Regions from separate parts of the Homo sapiens genome. Here region 2 is linked to region 1. Evidence: fine-mapped expression QTL. A gene starts in region 1. The other region holds a variant in brackets. All regions are shown on one strand. Distances are from middle to middle. Region 1 holds the start of TSPYL2 (TSPY like 2). Region 2 has its middle 37 kb from the start of MAGED4B.

Region 1 (8,686 bases):
TGCCCTCAATGGAAGTTTGCCAGGGACCCCATAGCCAAAAAAACCCGAAGAGTAGTTGATTTTCCTGCCCCTTCCACCTCCCATCTGAGTACTTCTCAGCACCTTTATAATTCTCGTGTTATTCTCAGAGCCTTTAAGGTGCTAATGTGACTCTACAAGAGGGTATTACTATATGCAGTACTTGTCCAACATATACGACCACTGAAACCTTTTGTGGGAAGCAGCTTTCAGATCTGGTGAGTGATCCTCAGGACATAATTTTGGAAACCCTGCCCAACCTACGATGCATTTTCACCCTTCCAGGTCCTTGTTCAGATGATCCACTCCACGGAGAATGCTCCATAAAGCTCCTCAGTGTGAATGCATCCTCCAGTTCAAATGTCACCTTTTTCCTCTAGCTCTTCCCCCGCCACCCCCCCCACCCCGATTCTTGAGGTAGAACTGGCTGCACCCTTTTCTGGACTCAGAGAGCACACTGTTCACTTCATGCTCTGCTCCCAACACAAGCCTGGAAATGCGCCAAAGGCCAAGGCCGGGTACAGACTGTGCTGAAATGCACTGTGTTTTGCCACTCCCCCACCTCGATGTGAAGTGTCCTTTTCAGTTTTCCACCCACTGTCTCCTATCTCTGTGTACTCTTCATCTTCTGCTGTTACAACCATCTATCCATCACCTAGAACTAAAATGATTTTTTGGGGTTTTGTTACATTTTTAAGTTAAATGTTCACTGGACTTCCTTTGTTTAAAAAGTTGCTCAGAATGCTTTTTCTTTCCTCCATAAAAGCAGATTGTGTTCATGCCTTGATACCCTGTCCTTGGCCAGGCTTGCTCTGAGAAAAGAAAAGAGGGAAGACAAGGGTGGGGGGGGATTAGCTCACCTTCCTCAATGCCCTCTTCTTCCACTGATTCGTCTGAGATGATCTCTATCACGTCCTCGTAGTCAGCCTGATCCTTGTCAAAGTCTTCAATAACTTTCTCATAGTACTCAATGTCTCTGTCGTCATCATCGCTGCCTTCATTGTCACCTTCATTGCCATCATCATCACTGCCCTCATTGTCACCTTCGTTGCCATCATTATCTTCATCATCACTGGCCTCATCTGCTTCATTGTCACTGTCGCTGCTGTCCTGGTTGTTGCCATGGCTGCCCCAGAAGCCACCTTTGAAGAAGTTGTTGCCGTAAGTGTTCTCGTTGTTGTTAGGGTTCTCTTCGTTGTCATCAGTGTTCTTGTTATTGTCTTCAGGATTCTCGTTGTTGTCATCTGCACTCTCATTGTTGTCAGTGGTTTCGTGGTCATCAGCACTCTCGTTGTTATCAGTGGTCTCGTTGTTGGGGACCTCATTGTGGTCAGGATTCTCGCTGTCGCAGATGTTCTCATTGATGTCAGTTATCTCATTGTCAGTGGTCTCGAAGTAGTCGGTGGTCTCCATGAAGTCAGAGATCTTGATGTCATGAATTGTCTCATCAATGTCTGAGATCTCGCTGAAAATGTCTTCCACTGCATAATAGTCAGGGGCGTCTTCCATGATCACCACCTCACATCTGCCCCTGGTTTTACTGTAAGGAAGGCTGTGGCTGAGTATAGGGTTGGTGGGAGGTGGTGTACTCATAGCACTCAAAGGTGGGAAGTAACTGGGGAAGCAGTAGGCTATAAGGGATCCCAGGAATGGGGCTAGGGTGGGTAAAGTCCCACTTCTGCCCCTGACTGTGTAACCTCAAGCCATTTCTGGGCATGATTTCCCACTTGTAAAACATATTCCACTGGGATTATCTCAAAGGTCCCTTTTTGGCTCCATAAATCCTGTGTTACACTAGTCTTTTCCCCATCCCCAACAAACCACCTCTCAGCGACCAAACTCCCATTACCGTTTCTTCATTTCTTGCTTCTTTCTCTTTATCCTGGAGCCCCTTTCTCTCAGGTAGTAGCGTAGAGGGTTAACCCACAGATCATTCTTGATAATCTGTTGAAAAAGGGGAGAAGGAATAAGACAGCCATTAGTACAAGCTCCAGATCCTCCTCTTAATTCCCCACGCACCCAGGAACAAGCCTAGCAAGGCCTTCTCTGGTGATGCCAGGAAGGGCCCCACCTCAGCAATCCTGTCAGCCTCTGGGAGGCTATGGTTTGAGAACCAGCTGAAAAAGCTGTGGCTCGCATCCTGGTTCCCGTGACGACGGGCCTGGGGTTCCTGGCCCCGGTGCCAGCGGATTGGGGTTGAGTGAGACACCAGCCGGCCTAGGGAGAGAGAAGGCTATGGAGATGGGACAAAACAAGGACAGATTGAGGGGGGGAACATGGATTTACTCTGGTACTGCCACTTACCTGAGCGGTTGCGCTGGAACTCCTTGACAATCACCATGTTTGTGAAGTAGGGGTTAGTCTGGAAGTACAGCTTCATTTTGTAGCCCATGGAGATATGTCTGAGATCCTGTACCTGCTCCAGGTGGGGGTGATGGTGGAATCTGTCCCCCCCCCAACACACCACGGCCCTTCCCACCCACCTCCCGTCACCTCCAAGAACCAGATTCGTGCCCGATCCTACTAAAAAATGTCTCTCTGGCCTGACCTGCAGATTGGTCAAGTAGCGGAAAATGTCTTCATCACGTCGGTTGATCAAAATTGAAATTCTGGGGTGGTTGAGGAACTGATGAGTGGAGCAGTTTAGGTCAAGGATTGACTATTCCGTGAAAGGGAGGGAGGGAAGGCCAGGAAGGGCACAGTAAGAGAGGCTGGAGCATGAGGATTCCTTCTGTGCTTATGTGGTGTGTATAAAGCAAGTGAGTCATGGGACATAACCCATACTTATTCCCATGATAAACCTCTATGTTAGGTGGCCCTACAGGGTGTCGACAATCCATGTGCATGTGGTATATGTCACTGGGTGCTGAAAGCTTGTGTTCACAAAATGCACGTCTGGGGGCTTAAGGGCCATGTCCAAGTGATGCTGTAACTGATTGCTGAGGGCCTGTGGTCACGTTATTGTATGTATGGGTGTTGAAGGTCCATGTCCACATGATGTGTGAATGGCTCTGATGGCTTGTGGTCAAGTTATGCCATGTGTCTACATGCTGAGGACCTGTGGTCACATAATACTGTGTCTAGGAGCTGAGGTCCTATGTCTAAATGATATTGTATGCCTGGGTGCTAAGGGCCTCTTACCATGTGCTGTTTCATATGAGGGCTAAGGGTCTGTATCCACATAATTCTATTAGGATGTTCGACTCATGTTCCTAACATGTTACATGTATGTGTATGTGTCTACTCTCCCCTTTCCTTCATTTAACTCCTTTTTCTCTATACCTAGACACTCCCTCTCTTGATCTTTCAGGGGCTCCAGCCCCCCTCCCTCCAATGCAAGGCACTCCAGCCAGGATTGGGGTCTCCTAGTATCTTAAGCAAAAATCTAGGTTTACAGAGCCTTGTATGGCTCAAGCACCCTTTCTGGGCAGTTTCTCTGCTGTGTGCCATTCCCCTCCCTCTTCAAGGTCTCTGAGTCAGTTCATCTTCTACGTGCCCCTCCCCTCCTCCTTTCACCATCTCTGGTCCAATTTTTTTGCTGTGTGCCCCTTTACTACCCTCCCCCTTTTTATCATCTGTGATCCTTTTTTTAATGCTATGTTCCTCCTCTTCCCCCTTTCCCATCTGTGGTCCAGTTTTTATGTCCGCCCCCCCTCCACCACCCTTCATCATCTCCAGTCCAGCTTCTCTGCTGTTTTGCCCTCCTCCTTCCATCCCTCTTCCACCCAGTCTAGTCCGTCTTCCGATAGGGGGATCATGCCCACCTCTGGCTCTCCTCCACCCGCTTTACCTTTTCTGTCCCTCCCCCACCTTCCCCTTTCCTGTCACGGGCTTCTGACCTACGGAGTATCGATTAGAAGGATACTGCTTTGACCCAGAAGCCTGGGATATGCTGGATGATGAGGTCTCTGCGCTCCAGGAAGGGTCTTCGCATCTGGATGAACTTGCGCTTGAGACGCAGGAAGGCTTTGCCTGCCTTGATGTTCACTGCCTCCAGATCCAGCTGAATATCCTCCAGTGCCTGCAGGATGCTCTCCATCCTCTCGGCATTTCTCTCTCTGCTTTCCCTCTTCACCTTCCTCTGCTTCCTCCTCCGCCGCCGCCGCCGCCTCCTGCTGCTCCTCATACTCTCCCGCTCATCCTCATCCTCATCCTCCACTATGATGATCGCCTCTTCCTTGCTCTTCGGGTCAACTAACCTCTGGGGCGCCCACCCCACTGCGCTACAGGTTTCTAGGGCCCCCTCTCCACCAAAACTGCTCGACTGTACAACCTGAAAATCGATTTCCAGGCTCCCCCCCGAGGCCTCAGGAGTGGGGAGTGCTTCCAGGCTCTCCGTGGGCGGGGGCGCCTCCCCATACCCCGACTCGATGGTAGAATCCCAGCCGGGACACTCAGCACCGAGCGTGAAGTATGCGCGGATCCCCCCCTCCTCGAGAATGACATAGGGAGGCGGCGGGGGCAGCGCGGGGCCCAGTCCCACCCCCCTCATATCGGCCAGCACCTGTGCCGCCTCCGTTTCCTCCTGGAGCCTCGGGCGCTGCTGGGGTGGAGGCAGCGGCAGTCGGAGGAGCGGCGGCGGCGGCGGCGGCGGGGGCGGGTCGCGCTGTGGAGACTCGGAGCTGCTCAGGCGGCGGGTCTTGGCCGGAGGCCCCTCATCTGGGCGGTCCATGGCGACCGCGTTCGTACAGCTCAGGGGACTCGCACTCGCCCCTTCGCTTTTAGCCGCGTCGCTGCCGCTAGTCGCACCGGTAAGCAGAGCTGAGGAGACTCACGCAACCAGCTCTCCTCACCACCTCGCTCTGGCGTTCCCTCCCACAGCGCCCGCTCTACTCCCTCCGCGCCAATCGCCGAAGCCCCGCCCACTCCTGACGCAGGGGTCCGCTCGGCCTGGCCATTGGCTGCCGGCCGCCGCGGCGGCGATCGCGCTCCCGCGACCCCTGCCCGCTCTCACGCAATCCGCTTGCCAACACCACACATCATCAGTTTCCGATTGGCTCCCCTCGGGCCCGCCAATCAACGGGCTGACTCCCTCAGCGACGGGAGGGAAACTGCAGGGCGATTGGCTGCGAGGAAAGCTGGGGAAGAAGCCCCTCTCCCTCACCCTCTCAGCGTTTTATCCAATGGGAAAAGTACCAGTGGTTCTGAAGACCAAAAAACGAGACGAAAAACAAACGCAGGCGCTGAGCAGGATGTGCTCACATGAAATTGGAAGAGCCTCGTTATCGTTCCCCCCGCCCCCCTCCCCTCAGCAACTACGCACTTTTAAAATCTGCCCCTTCCCCCATTTCCTTCAGCTCCTTCCCCCACCCCCGCTTCTGCCCCTTCCCCCATCCCGGGTCCTGCCCCTTCCCCCATCCCAGCTCCTGCCCCTTCTCCCACCCCCGCTTCTGCCCCTTCTCCCATCCCCCACTGCTGCCCCTTTTTCCATCCCCGCTTCTGCCCCTTCCTCCACTCCCCGTTTCTGTCCCTTCCCCCACCCCCCGTTTCTGCCCCTTCCCCCATCCCCCGCTTCGGCCCCTTCCCCCACCCCACCCCCGCTTCTGCCCCTTCACCCCCCGCTTCTGCCCCTTCCTCCCCCGCTTCTGCCCCTTCCCTCACCCCCCCTTCTGCCCCTTCCCGCATTCCCTGCTTCTGACCCCCATCCCCCAACTGTCTCTTCCCTCACCCCCACTTCTGCCCCTTCCCCTATCCCCCAACTTCTGCCCCTTCCTTCACCCCCCAACCCCACTTCTGCCCCTTCCCTCACCCTCCCGCCCTCCGCTTCTGCCCTTCCCCTATCCCCCAACTTCTGCCCCTTCCCTCACACAACCCCTGCCCCCCGCCCCCCCGCTTCTGCCTCTTTTCCTACCTTCCACTTCTGCCCCTTCCCCCACCCCCCACGTTTGCCCCCTGGGTGAACTCTGCTGTAGCTCCTCGGGGGCTCGGGCTGCCCTACCGCCTGCGCCTGCAATTTAGGCACCCAGGGTGTTTGGTTTGGGGGCCAGGTTTTGACGTGGCGTTTTCCATCTCCGCAAAATGGCTCTACAAATAATAATCACACACACAAAAAAGTAACTTCCTCTGCGTCATAAAAATGATTGTGATTCAGCTCATCTGCTAGAATTTTCTAGCACTTTCTGTCTCTTCATTTCTCCCCCTTTCCATCCTTTCCTCTCCCTTTCCCCAGTGTATGCTGTATTTTAAGATTTTTCTTTTTAAACCAGAGATGGATGGTCTTTTGTGAGGCATGGTGGTGGAGGGCTGGCTTTGGTGCTGGGATTCACATCATGGGTGTGCCCCTCATTTTGTAACCTTAACCAAATCACTGCCCCTCTCTGAGCTTCAGTTTTCTCTCCCCTAAATTAGGCATCCCTCAAGAGAGGTGTAGGTAACTGCCCATTGCAGCCTTGTCGCGGAGCAGAGAGGAGACCTAGGGATCCATCATCAGGGGAGTGGATAAGAAAAATGTGATATATGTTTTAGATGGACCACTAGAATGAATTAGATCTATATACGGCAACATGGCTGGATCTCTCAAAGACAGAATGTTGAGTGAAAAAAGAAACAACAAGATTTATAGTACAATACTGTTTATGTAAATTAAAACACACAGCAATACCATACATTTTTCACAGATACACATATATGTAAATAAACACATGAACGGTGGATTGGAAGGACGTACGTTAAATACACGAGAGTGGGTGCCTGTGTAGGGGGCGGGGAGGATGGGATCAGGAATGGGTGATGAAGGGGACAAAACTGAAGAAAAAAAAATAAAAGGGCCTCACATGGACCAATGATGATATAGTGTGCCAAGAACTGAGGAGTATGGTCAACTCAATTCTGTGCACCTGAGAGAATAACCAGATAGTAAATTAACTGTCTAGGGAGCAGGCTGGCTGGGTAGACTCCTGGGCTTGGGTTTTTTTTCCCCATGACATCCCTCCCTCTAAATTTGGTCAAAGCTGACCAAAGTCCCAGCTGCATACAGTGGCCCCTAGGAAGGGCTCCCATCCCAGACTGAGCAGTCCCTCCAGAAGCCATTACTTTGTGGGGGGCATTTCCTAACCTCATCAGTTTCCCTCACATTTGATCCTCAATTCCCAGTCCCCATTCTCCATGGTGGTCCAATTTTAGGAACACCTTGTTTGAGTTTGGGAAGGAGACTGAGACGGGGTTGAGATGGGGCTACAGGCTTTGTGAGGAGATGAGGTTTTCAAGTTCCCTGGCGGCCCCAGCCCTCCCGTGCTCAGGGCCTGGGCCAAGGGAGGCCCATCTTGTGAGATGGGAGTCTACCCTCTTGCTACCGACCTATGTAGTTTCCAAGATCCATCTCTTGACCACTCGACTTCCTACCACGGGCACATACTCTAGTTTGTCTCCTCTCAACTGTGGTGTGTGTGTGTGTGTGTGTATGCATGCACGTGCTGTATCTGTCCCCATATACAGGCATTTTACGTGTGTGCACCGGGCAAGTTTTCTTCAGGAGTGCCTCCCCACACAAAGTCACACAGACACACACTATCACTCAATCATGTCTCTCCACATGTGGTCAGACAGGGCACATGCACGCACGCACGCACACACACACACACAGTCAGAAAGAGAAAACATCCAGTATAGCATTGTTCATTTCAGTTTTTCCATTTACAAAATCCAATGGTGAATCCAGGCAGTTAGAAAAAAGAAATGGAGGAAAACCCTCCTAAATGTACCCTATCTACCCCCCACCCCCTTGGTCTTCCCACCCCACCCCCTCGGAAAGGCACCCCCATCACTATCGCTGAGAGAACAGGCTCCCCTACTCCCAGCCTCTCAGCCACTCTGGCCTGCCTTTCCAGGGCCACTCTGCAGCCAGGCTCATTAATGTCTCTCCTGCCTAGAGTGCCCTCCCCATTCTGTATGGGTCAGGCTTCCCCAGTTCTGGGGCTCTCTTGGGCTAGGGAGGGAGTTTAGGACAGGGACTTCTATAAAGAAGGGAAAGGGGGATGGATAAATACAGATTCCGGCCCCACAGGAAGTGAGAGGGGGACAGAGAGCCTGGGTAAGACCAGGGCAAGGAGTGCCAGCTTGGCTCACCAATCCACAGAACAGGCCTCAAAGTAAGCCCAGAGTGGACTCCACCCCTGGGAGGAGGCTTGGATCTCCCTCCTGGAGAATCTGACTGCAGTGTGCTCCACTTTGGGTGTAGGTAAGGGTGGGGGAAGGATGGGGAAGGAGGGTTGTTGGGAAAGAAGGATGCTTGGGGCTCAGGGCCCAGTCAGCCAAGGGCTACTAAGGAGGGGCTTGAGGCCCCTGAGGCTTGAGGGGGACAAAAAGAGGTCAGATAGGAATGGACTCAAGTCCACAGTGCCTTGGAGTTTGTACCGCTATCGGTTACCAAGGCCCCAAACAAATTTTCATCTTCAGAAGAGTAGGGTGAACCCGAGAGACAATTCTGGGGTTGAAATCAGCTCTGACCCAAGTCTCTGTGGTCCAGCTACTCTGGGGAGTTCAGCTCCCTCCTTACACTTTCCTGGTGGGCTGCTCCTGCCTGTATGGCACCCACATCAGTCCTAGTGGGGCTGGAGTGGATTTCCATCCTCAGGAAGAAGAGTTGGGGGCTGGGGATCCTGAAGGCAGCGTGAGAGAATGTGACCAAGTGTGGGTCTCTTCAGTTCGAGGAGTTCAGCTCACATCTTAC
Region 2 (8,697 bases), 980 kb after region 1:
AAAGGAACCCCAAAAAGCCAAAACAATTTTGAAAAAGAGGAAAAGTTAGCAGAATCACACTTCCTAGTTTCAAAACTTACTATAAAGCTACAAGAACCAAAACAGTATGATACTGGCATAAAGACAAAAATATAGACCAATGGAATAAAATAGAGACACCCTGTGTTAGCCCATTTTTGCATTGTTATAAAGAAATACCTGAGGCTGGGTAATTTATAAAGAAAAGAGGTTTTTTAATTGGCTCACAGTTCTGCAGACTGTACAAAAGTGTGACACCAGCATCTCCTTCCCTTCTGGTGAGGCCTCAGAGAACTTTTACTCACAGCAGAAGGCAAAGCAGGGGCAAGCATATCACATGGCAAGAGAAGGACCAAGAGAGACAAGGGGGTGATTCCATACTGTTTTTAAAAAAACAGATCTTCCATAAATAGAGCTAGAATCTACTCATCACCAAGGGGATGGCACTAAGCCATTCATGAGAAATCTGCCCCCATGGTCCAATACCTCCCACTAGGCCCAACCTCCAACATTCAAAATCACATTTCAACATGAGATTTGGAGGGAATATCCTTTCTGTATTGTGTATTCTTATTGCTTTTTTTGAAGATTAGTTGACCATATACGTGTGGATATATTTGTGAACTATCTATTTTGTTCAGTTGGTTGATGTATCTGTTTTTATGCCAGTACAATTCTCTATTGATTACTATATCTTTATAATATACTTGGAAATTAGGCAGTGTGATGCCTCCAGATCTGTTGTCTTTTCTTATTATGTCTTTGGCTACTTAGGGTCTCCCAGGTAGATGAAAAGGTGCTTAACATAATTAATCATCAGGGGAATGCAAATTAAAACCACAGTGAGATATCACTTCACATCTGTTAGTATGAATATGATCAAAATGCCAAGTGATAACAAGTATCAATGTAGGCTTCTCAAAACAACGAATACTAGGACAGGGAGGCAGGGCAAGATGACTAAATAGAAGGCTACAGCAAGTTTCCCCCTACCACACAGGAACACCATATTGAACATAAATAAAGCACCTTCAAAAGAACCAAATATCAAGGGAGTGGTCACAGTACTTGCTTTAACACCATATTAAGGAAAAAGGCAATGAAGAGGGTAGGAAACACAGTCTTTCTTAAATAGCCTACACCACCCCACTCGTATCCCCCAGCAGTGGCTACATGGAACAGAGAGAATCTCTGTACTTAGGGAAAGGAAAGTGCTGAAATTTTGGGACTACACATTCAAACTCAGTGCTGCCCTACCATAGTCAAAAGCAACACAGGGCAGAACTCAACCAGCACCCACGGAGGGAGCATTTAGACCAGCCATAGTCAGAGATGAATTGTCCATCCCAGCAGTCGACACCTGAGTTCCAGCAAGCCCTGCCACTGCAGGCTAAAGTGCTATGGGGCCCTAAATAAACTTGAAAGACAGTCTCAGCCACAAGGACTCCAATTCCTACGTGAGTCCTGGTACTATGCTGGGCTCAAAGCCAGGTAGACTTGGAGTGTAGACAATGTAGTGATGCACCAGCTAGGGCAGCCTAGGGAGTGCTCATGTCACCCTTCCCTCAAACCCAGGCATCACAACTTGCAGCTCCAGGAGAGACTCCTACCTTCACCTTGAAGAGACGAGAGGAGAGTGGGGAGTGAAGAGGACTGTGTCTTGCAATTGGGTACCAGCCCAGCCACAGTAGGATAAGGCAACAGGAATAGTCCCAAGGCTCCCATTACAAGCCCCAGCTCACAGATGACATTTCTTAACACACTGTGGACTAGAAGGGAACATGCTACCTTGAAGGGAAGGACCAACTCCTGGCAGGATCTATCACCTGCTAACAAAAAAGCTCTTGGGCTCTGCATAATCATCAGTGGTAACCAGCCAGTGCTTGCTGTGGGCCTGGGGTGGTGGTGGCTATGGGGAGAAACTCCTCTACTTGAGGATAGGGGAGGCAAGTGTGAGAAGGACTTTGTCTTGCAGCTTCTTGCCGGCTCAGCCACAGTTTAACAGAGCACCAGGTAGATTCCTAAGGTTCTGAACTCCAGGTCCTAGGTCCAGAAGAGCAACTTTTGACCCACCCAGGGCAAGGGAGAACTTGCTGCCCTTAAGGGAAGAACACAAGACTGACTGGCTTCACCACCTATTGACTGTAGAGCATTTTGGCTTTAAGTGAACATAGGCAGTAGCCAGGCAGTGGTCACTGTGGTATTGGGCAAGACCAAGTGGCATGCTGACTTTGGGTCTGACCCAGCACAGTCCCAGTGGTGAGTACCATAGAGGTACTTGTGTCATCCCACACCCAGCTCCAGGCAGCTCAGCACAGAGACTCAATTGGTTTGGGGTAAAGTAAGGAAAGAAAACAAGAACCTCTGTGAGGTAATCCAGGTAATTCCTCCATGATCTTACCCAAGACCACCAAGGCAGTACCTCAGAGTCTACAAGAGCCATAACATTACTAGACTTAGGGTGTCCCCTAATAGAGACAAAGCTGCAGTGACCAAAGGTTTAGAACAACACCTAAATCCCTTTGAATACCTGGAAAGCCTACCCAGGAAGGATGGGTACCAAGCCCAGACTGTGAAGACTACAATAAATACCTAACTCTTCAATGCTCAGACACTGAGGAACATCCACAAGCATCAAGAACATCCAAGAAAACATTAATTCACCAAATGAACTGAATAAAGCACCAGAACCTTAATACACTGTTGGTGGTAAGGTACATTAGTACAACCACTATGGAGAACAGTTTGGAGGTTCCTCAGACAACTAAAAATAGAGCTACCATACAACCCAGCAATCCCACTGCTGGGTATATGCCCCAAAGAAAGGACATCAGCATATTGAAGACATATCTGCATCCCCATGTTTATTGCAGCCCTACTTACAATAGCCAAGATTTGGATGCAACCTATGTATCCATCAATAGATGGATGGGTAAAGAAAATGTAGTACATATACACAGTGGAGTACTATTCAGTCATAAAAAAGAATGAGATCCTGTCATTTGCAACAACATGGATGAAACTGAAGGACATTATATTATGTGAAATAAGCCTGAAACAGAAAGGCAGCTTCACATATTTATGGGAGCTAAAAATTAAAACACTTGAACTCATGGAGATAGAGAGTAGAACAATGTTTACCACAGTCTGGGAAGGGTAGTGGGGGTAGGGGGAGTGTGAATGGTTAATGGGTACCAAAAAATAGAGTAGATAAGATCTGGTATTTGATATCACAACAGGATAACTACAGTCAACGAAAGTTTATTATACATGCCAGGTGTCACGGCTCTTGTCTGTAATCCCAGCACATTGGAAGGCCAAGGCAGGAGGACAGCTTGAGTCTGGAAGTTCAAGACCAGCCTGGGCAACATAGAGAGAACTTGTCTCTACAAAAAATAAAATAAAATAAAATAAAAATTAACTGCATGTAGTGGCATGCACCCGTAGTCTCAGATACATGGGAGGCTGAGGTGGGAGGATCACTTAAGCCTGGGAGGTCAAGGCTGCAGTAAGCCATGATCATGCCACTGCACTCAGTCTGGGTGACAGAGTGAGAATAAATAAAAGTAATGTGCAGTTAAAAATAACTAAAAGAGAAGATTGTATTGGTTGGGTGGAGCCAAGATGGCCGAATAGGAAAAGCTCCGGTCTACAGCTCCCAGCATGAGCGACACATAAGACGGGTGATTTCTGCATTTCCATCTGAGGTACCGGGTTCATCTCACTAGGGAGTGCCAGACAGTGGGAGCAGGACAGTGGGTGCAGCACACCATGCGTGAGCCGAAGCAGGGCGAGGCATTGCCTCACTCGTGAAGCACAAGGGGTCAGGGAGGTCCCTTTCCTACTCAAAGAAAGGGGTGACAGACAGCACCTGGAAAATCGGGTCACTTCCACCCTAATACTGCGCTTTTCCAACAGGCTTATAAAAGGGCACACCAGGAGATTATATCCCGCACATGGCTCGGAGGGTCCTATGCCCACGGAGTCTCGCTGATTGCTAGCACAGTGTTCTGAGATCAAACTCCAAGGTGGCAGTGAGGCTGGAGGATGGGCGCCTGCCATTGCCCAGGCTTGATTAGGTAAACAAAGCAGCCTGGAAGCTCAAACTGGGTGGAGCCCACCACAGCTCCAGGAGGCCTTCCTGCCTCTGTAGGCTCCACCTCTGGGGGCAGGGCATAGATAAACAAAAAGACAGCAGTAACCTCTGCAAACTTAAATGTCCCTGTCTGACAGCTTTGAAGAGAGGAATGGTTTGCCCAGCATGCAGCTGGAGATCTGAGAACAGGCAGACTGCCTCCTCAAGTGGGTCCCTGACCCCTGACCCCCAAGCAGCCTAACTGGGAGGCACCCACCAGTAGGGGCAAACTGACACCTCACACGGCTGGGTACTCCTCTGAGAAAAAACTTCCAGAGGAACAATCAGGCAGCAGCATTTGCAGTTCACCAATATCCACTGTTGTACAGCCACCGCTGTTCTGCAGCCACCACTGCTGATACCCAGGCAAACAGGGTCTGGAGTGGACCTCCAGCAAACTCCAACAGACCTGCAGCTGAGGGTTCTGTCTGTTAGAAGGAAAACTAACAAACACAAAGGACATCCGCACCAAAAACCCACCTGTATGTCACCATCACCAAAGACCAAAAGTAGATAAAACCACAAAAATGGGGAAAAAACAGAGCAGAAAAACTGGAAACTCTAAAAAGCAGAGCACCTCTCCTCCTCCAAAGGAACTCAGCTCCTCACCAGCAATGGAAAAAAGCTGGATGGGGAATGACTTTGACGAGTTGAGAGAAGAAGACTTCAGATAATCAAGCTACTCCGAGCTAAAGGAGGAAATTCAAACCAATGGCATAGAAGTTAAAAACTTTGAAAAAAAAATTAGACGAATGGATACTTAGA[A/G]TAACCTATGCAGAGAAGTCCTTAAAGGAGCTGATGGAGCTGAAAGCCAAGGCTCCAGAATTATGTGAAGAACTCACAAGCCTCAGGAGCCGATGCGATCACCTGGAAGAAAGGGTATCAGTGATGGAAGACGAAATGAATGAAATGAAGTGTGAAGGGAAGTTCAGAGAAAACAGAATAAAAAGAAATGAACAAAGCCTCCAAGAAATATGGGATTATGTGAAAAGACCAAATCTACGTCTGATTGGTGTACCTGAAAGTGACAGGGAGAATGGAACCAAGTTGGAAAACACTCTGCAGGATATTATCCAGGAGAACTTCCCCAATCTAGAAAGGCAGGCCAACATTCAGATTCAGGAAATACAGAGAACGCCACAAAGATACTCCTCGAGAAGAGCAACTCAAAGACACATAATTGTCAGATTCACCAAAGTTGAAATGAAGGAAAAAAATGTTAAGGGCAGCCAGAGAGAAAGGTCGGGTTACCCACAAAGGGAAGCCCATCAGACTAACAGCGGATCTCTCAGCAGAAACTCTACAAGCCAGAAGAGAGTGGGGCCAATATTCAAGATTCTTAAAGAAAAGAATTTTCAACCCAGAATTTCATATTCAGCCAAACTAAGCTTCATAAGTGAAGGAGAAATAAAATCCTTTACAGACAAGCAAATGCTGAGAGATTTTATCACCACCAGGCCTGCCCTACAAGAGCTCCTGAAGGAAGCACTAAACATGGAAAGGAACAACCGGTACCAGCCACTGCAAAAACATGCCAAATTGTAAAGACTATCAAGGCTAGGAAGAAACTGCATCAACTAACGAGCAAAATAACCAGCTAACATCATAATGACAGGACCAAATGCACACATGACAATATTAACTTTAAAAGTCAATGGACTAAACGCTCCAATTAAAAGACACAGACTGGCAAATTGGATAAAGAGTCAGGACCCATCAGTGTGCTGTATTCAGGAAACCCATCTCACGTGCAGAGACACACATAGGCTCAAAATAAAGGGATGGAGGAAGATCTACCAAGCAAATGGAAAACAAAAAAAGGCAGGGGTTGCAATCCTAGTCTCTGATAAAACAGACTTTAAACCAACAAAGATCAAAAGAGACAAAGAAGGCCATTACATAATGGTAAACGGATCAATTCAACAAGAAGAGCTAACTATCCTAAATATATATGCACCCAATACAAGAGCACCCAGATTCATAAAGCAAGTTCTTAGAGACCTACAAAGAGACTTAGACTCCCACACATTAATAATGGGAGACTTTAACACCCCACTGTCAACATTAGACAGATCAACGAGACAGAAAGTTAACAAGGATATCCAGGAATTGAACTCAGCTCTGCACCAAGTGTACCTAATAGACATCTACAGAACTCTCCACCCCAAATCAACAGTATATACATTTTTTTCAGCACTACATCACACCTATTACAAAATTGACCACATAGTTGGAAGTAAAGCACTCCTCAGCAAATGTAAAAGAATAGAAATTATAACAAACTGTCTCTCAGACCACAGTGAAGTCAAACTAGAACTCAGGATTAAGAAACTCACTCAAAACCACTCAACTACATGGAAACAGAAGAACCTGCTCCTGAATGACTACTGGATGCATAACGAAATGAAGGCACAAATAAAGATGTTCTTTGAAACCAATGAGAACAAAGACATAATATACCAGAATCTCTGGGACACTTTCAAAGCAGTTTGTAGAGGGAAATTTATAGCACTAAATGCCCACAAGAGAAAGCAGGAAAGATCCAAAATTGACACCCTAACATCACAATTAGAAGAACTAGAAAAGCAAGAGCAAACACATTCAAAAGCTAGTAGAAGGCAAGAAATAACTACGATCAGAGCAGAACTGAAGGACATAAAGACACAAAAAACCCTTCAAAAAATTAATGAGTCCAGGAGCTGGTTTTCTGAAAGGATCAACAAAATTGATAGACCGCAAGCAAGACTAATAAAGAAGAAAAGAGAGAAGAATCAAATACACGCAATAAAAAATGATAAAGGGGATATCACCACCGATCCCGCAGAAATACAAACTACCATCAGAGAATACTACAAACATCTCTACCCAAATAAACTAGAAAATCTAGAAGAAATGGATAAATTCCTGGACACATACGCCCTCTGAAGACTAAACAAGGAAGAAATTGAATCTCCAAATAGACCAATAACAGGCTCTGAAATTGTGGCAATAATCAATAGCTTACCAACCAAAAAAAGTCCAGGACCAGATGGATTCACAGCCGAATTCTACCAGAGGTACAAGGAGGAGCTGGTACCATTCCTTCTGAAACTATTCCTATCAATAGAAAAAGAGGGAATCCTCCCTAACTCATTTTATGAGGCCAGCATCATCCTGATACCAAAGCCTGGCAGAGACACAACCAAAAAAGATAATTTTAGACCCACATCCTTGATGAACATTGATGGAAAAATCCTCAACAAAATACTGGCAAACTTAATACAGCAGCACATCAAAAAGCTTATCCACCATGATCAAGTGGGCTTCATCCCTGGGAGGCAAGGCTGTTTCAACTTACGCAAATCAATAAATGTAATCCAGCATATAAACAGAACCAACAACAAAAACCACATGATTATCTCAATAGATGCAGAAAAGGCCTTTCACAAAATTCAACAGCCCTTCATGCTAAAAACTCTCAATAAATTAGGTATTGATGGGACGTATTTCAAAATAATAAGAGCTGTCAATGACAAACTCACAGCCAATATCATACTGAATGGGCAAAGACTGGAAGCATTCCCTTTGAAAACTGGCCCAAGACAGGAATGCCCTCTCTCACCACATCTATTCAGCATAGTGTTGGAAGTGCTGGCCAGGGCAATTAAGCAGGAGAAGGAAATAAAAGGTATTCAAATAGAAAAAGAGGAAGTCAAATTGTCCCTGTTTGCAGATGACATGATTGTATATCTAGAAAATCCCATTGTCTCAGCCAAAAATCTCCTTAAGCTGATAAGCAAATTCAGCAAGGTCTCAGGATACAAAATCAATGTGCAAAAATCACAAGCATTCTTATACACCAATAACAGACAAACAGAGAGCCAAATCATGAGTGAACTCCCATTCACAATTGCTTCAAAGAGAATAAAATACCTAGGAGTCCAACTTACAAGGGATGTGAAGGACCTCTTCAAAGAGAACTACAAACCACTGCTCAAGGAAATAAAAGAGGATACAAACAAATGGAAAAACATTCCATGCTCATGGGTAGGAAGAATCAATACTGTGAAAATGGCCATACTGCCCAAGGTAATTTATAGATTCAATGCCATCCCCATCAAGCTACCAAGGACTTTCTTCACAGAATTGGAAAAAACTACTTTAAAGTTCATATGGAACCAAAAAAAGCCCCCATCGCCAAGTCAATCCTAAGCCAAAAGAACACAGCCAGAGGCATCACACTACCTGACTTCAAACTATACTACAAGGCTATAGTAACCAAAACAGCATGGTACTGGTACCAAAACAGATCTATAGATCAATGGAACAGAATAGAGTCCTCAGAAATAATGCTGCATATCTACAACCATCTGATCTTTGACAAATCTGAAAAAAAAAAAGCAATGGGGAAAGGATTCCGTATTTATTAAATGGTGCTGGGAAAACTGGCTAGCCATATGTAGAAAGCTGAAACTGGATCCCTTCCTTACACCTTACACAAAAATTAATTCAAGATGGATGAAAGACTTATATGTTAGACCTAAAACCATAAAAACCCTAGAAGA

The links. PIP is the estimated chance that this variant, and not a neighbour inherited with it, causes the effect.
Region 2: its variant is the best candidate, but not a certain one, in a credible set for the expression of TSPYL2 in whole blood (TOPMed, PIP 0.86).

The regions. Positions count from the first base shown.
Region 1 is chrX:53,078,503-53,087,188 of GRCh38, reverse strand. It overlaps TSPYL2 (TSPY like 2), which reads right to left and starts at 4,822. Exons shown (of 7, transcript NM_022117.4): 1 at 3,884-4,822; 2 at 2,567-2,644; 3 at 2,323-2,434; 4 at 2,090-2,235; 5 at 1,868-1,962; 6 at 879-1,558. The coding sequence starts at 4,690. GPR173 (G protein-coupled receptor 173) reads right to left here. Exons shown (of 2, transcript NM_018969.6): 2 at 6,574-8,686. RefSeq lists silencers at 4,448-4,497, 4,528-4,577, 4,848-4,957.
Region 2 is chrX:52,101,682-52,110,378 of GRCh38, reverse strand. No RefSeq gene overlaps it. Among named protein-coding and RNA genes, the nearest start is that of MAGED4B, 37 kb to the right of the region's middle. The variant A/G (reference allele first, on the strand shown) is at 4,919.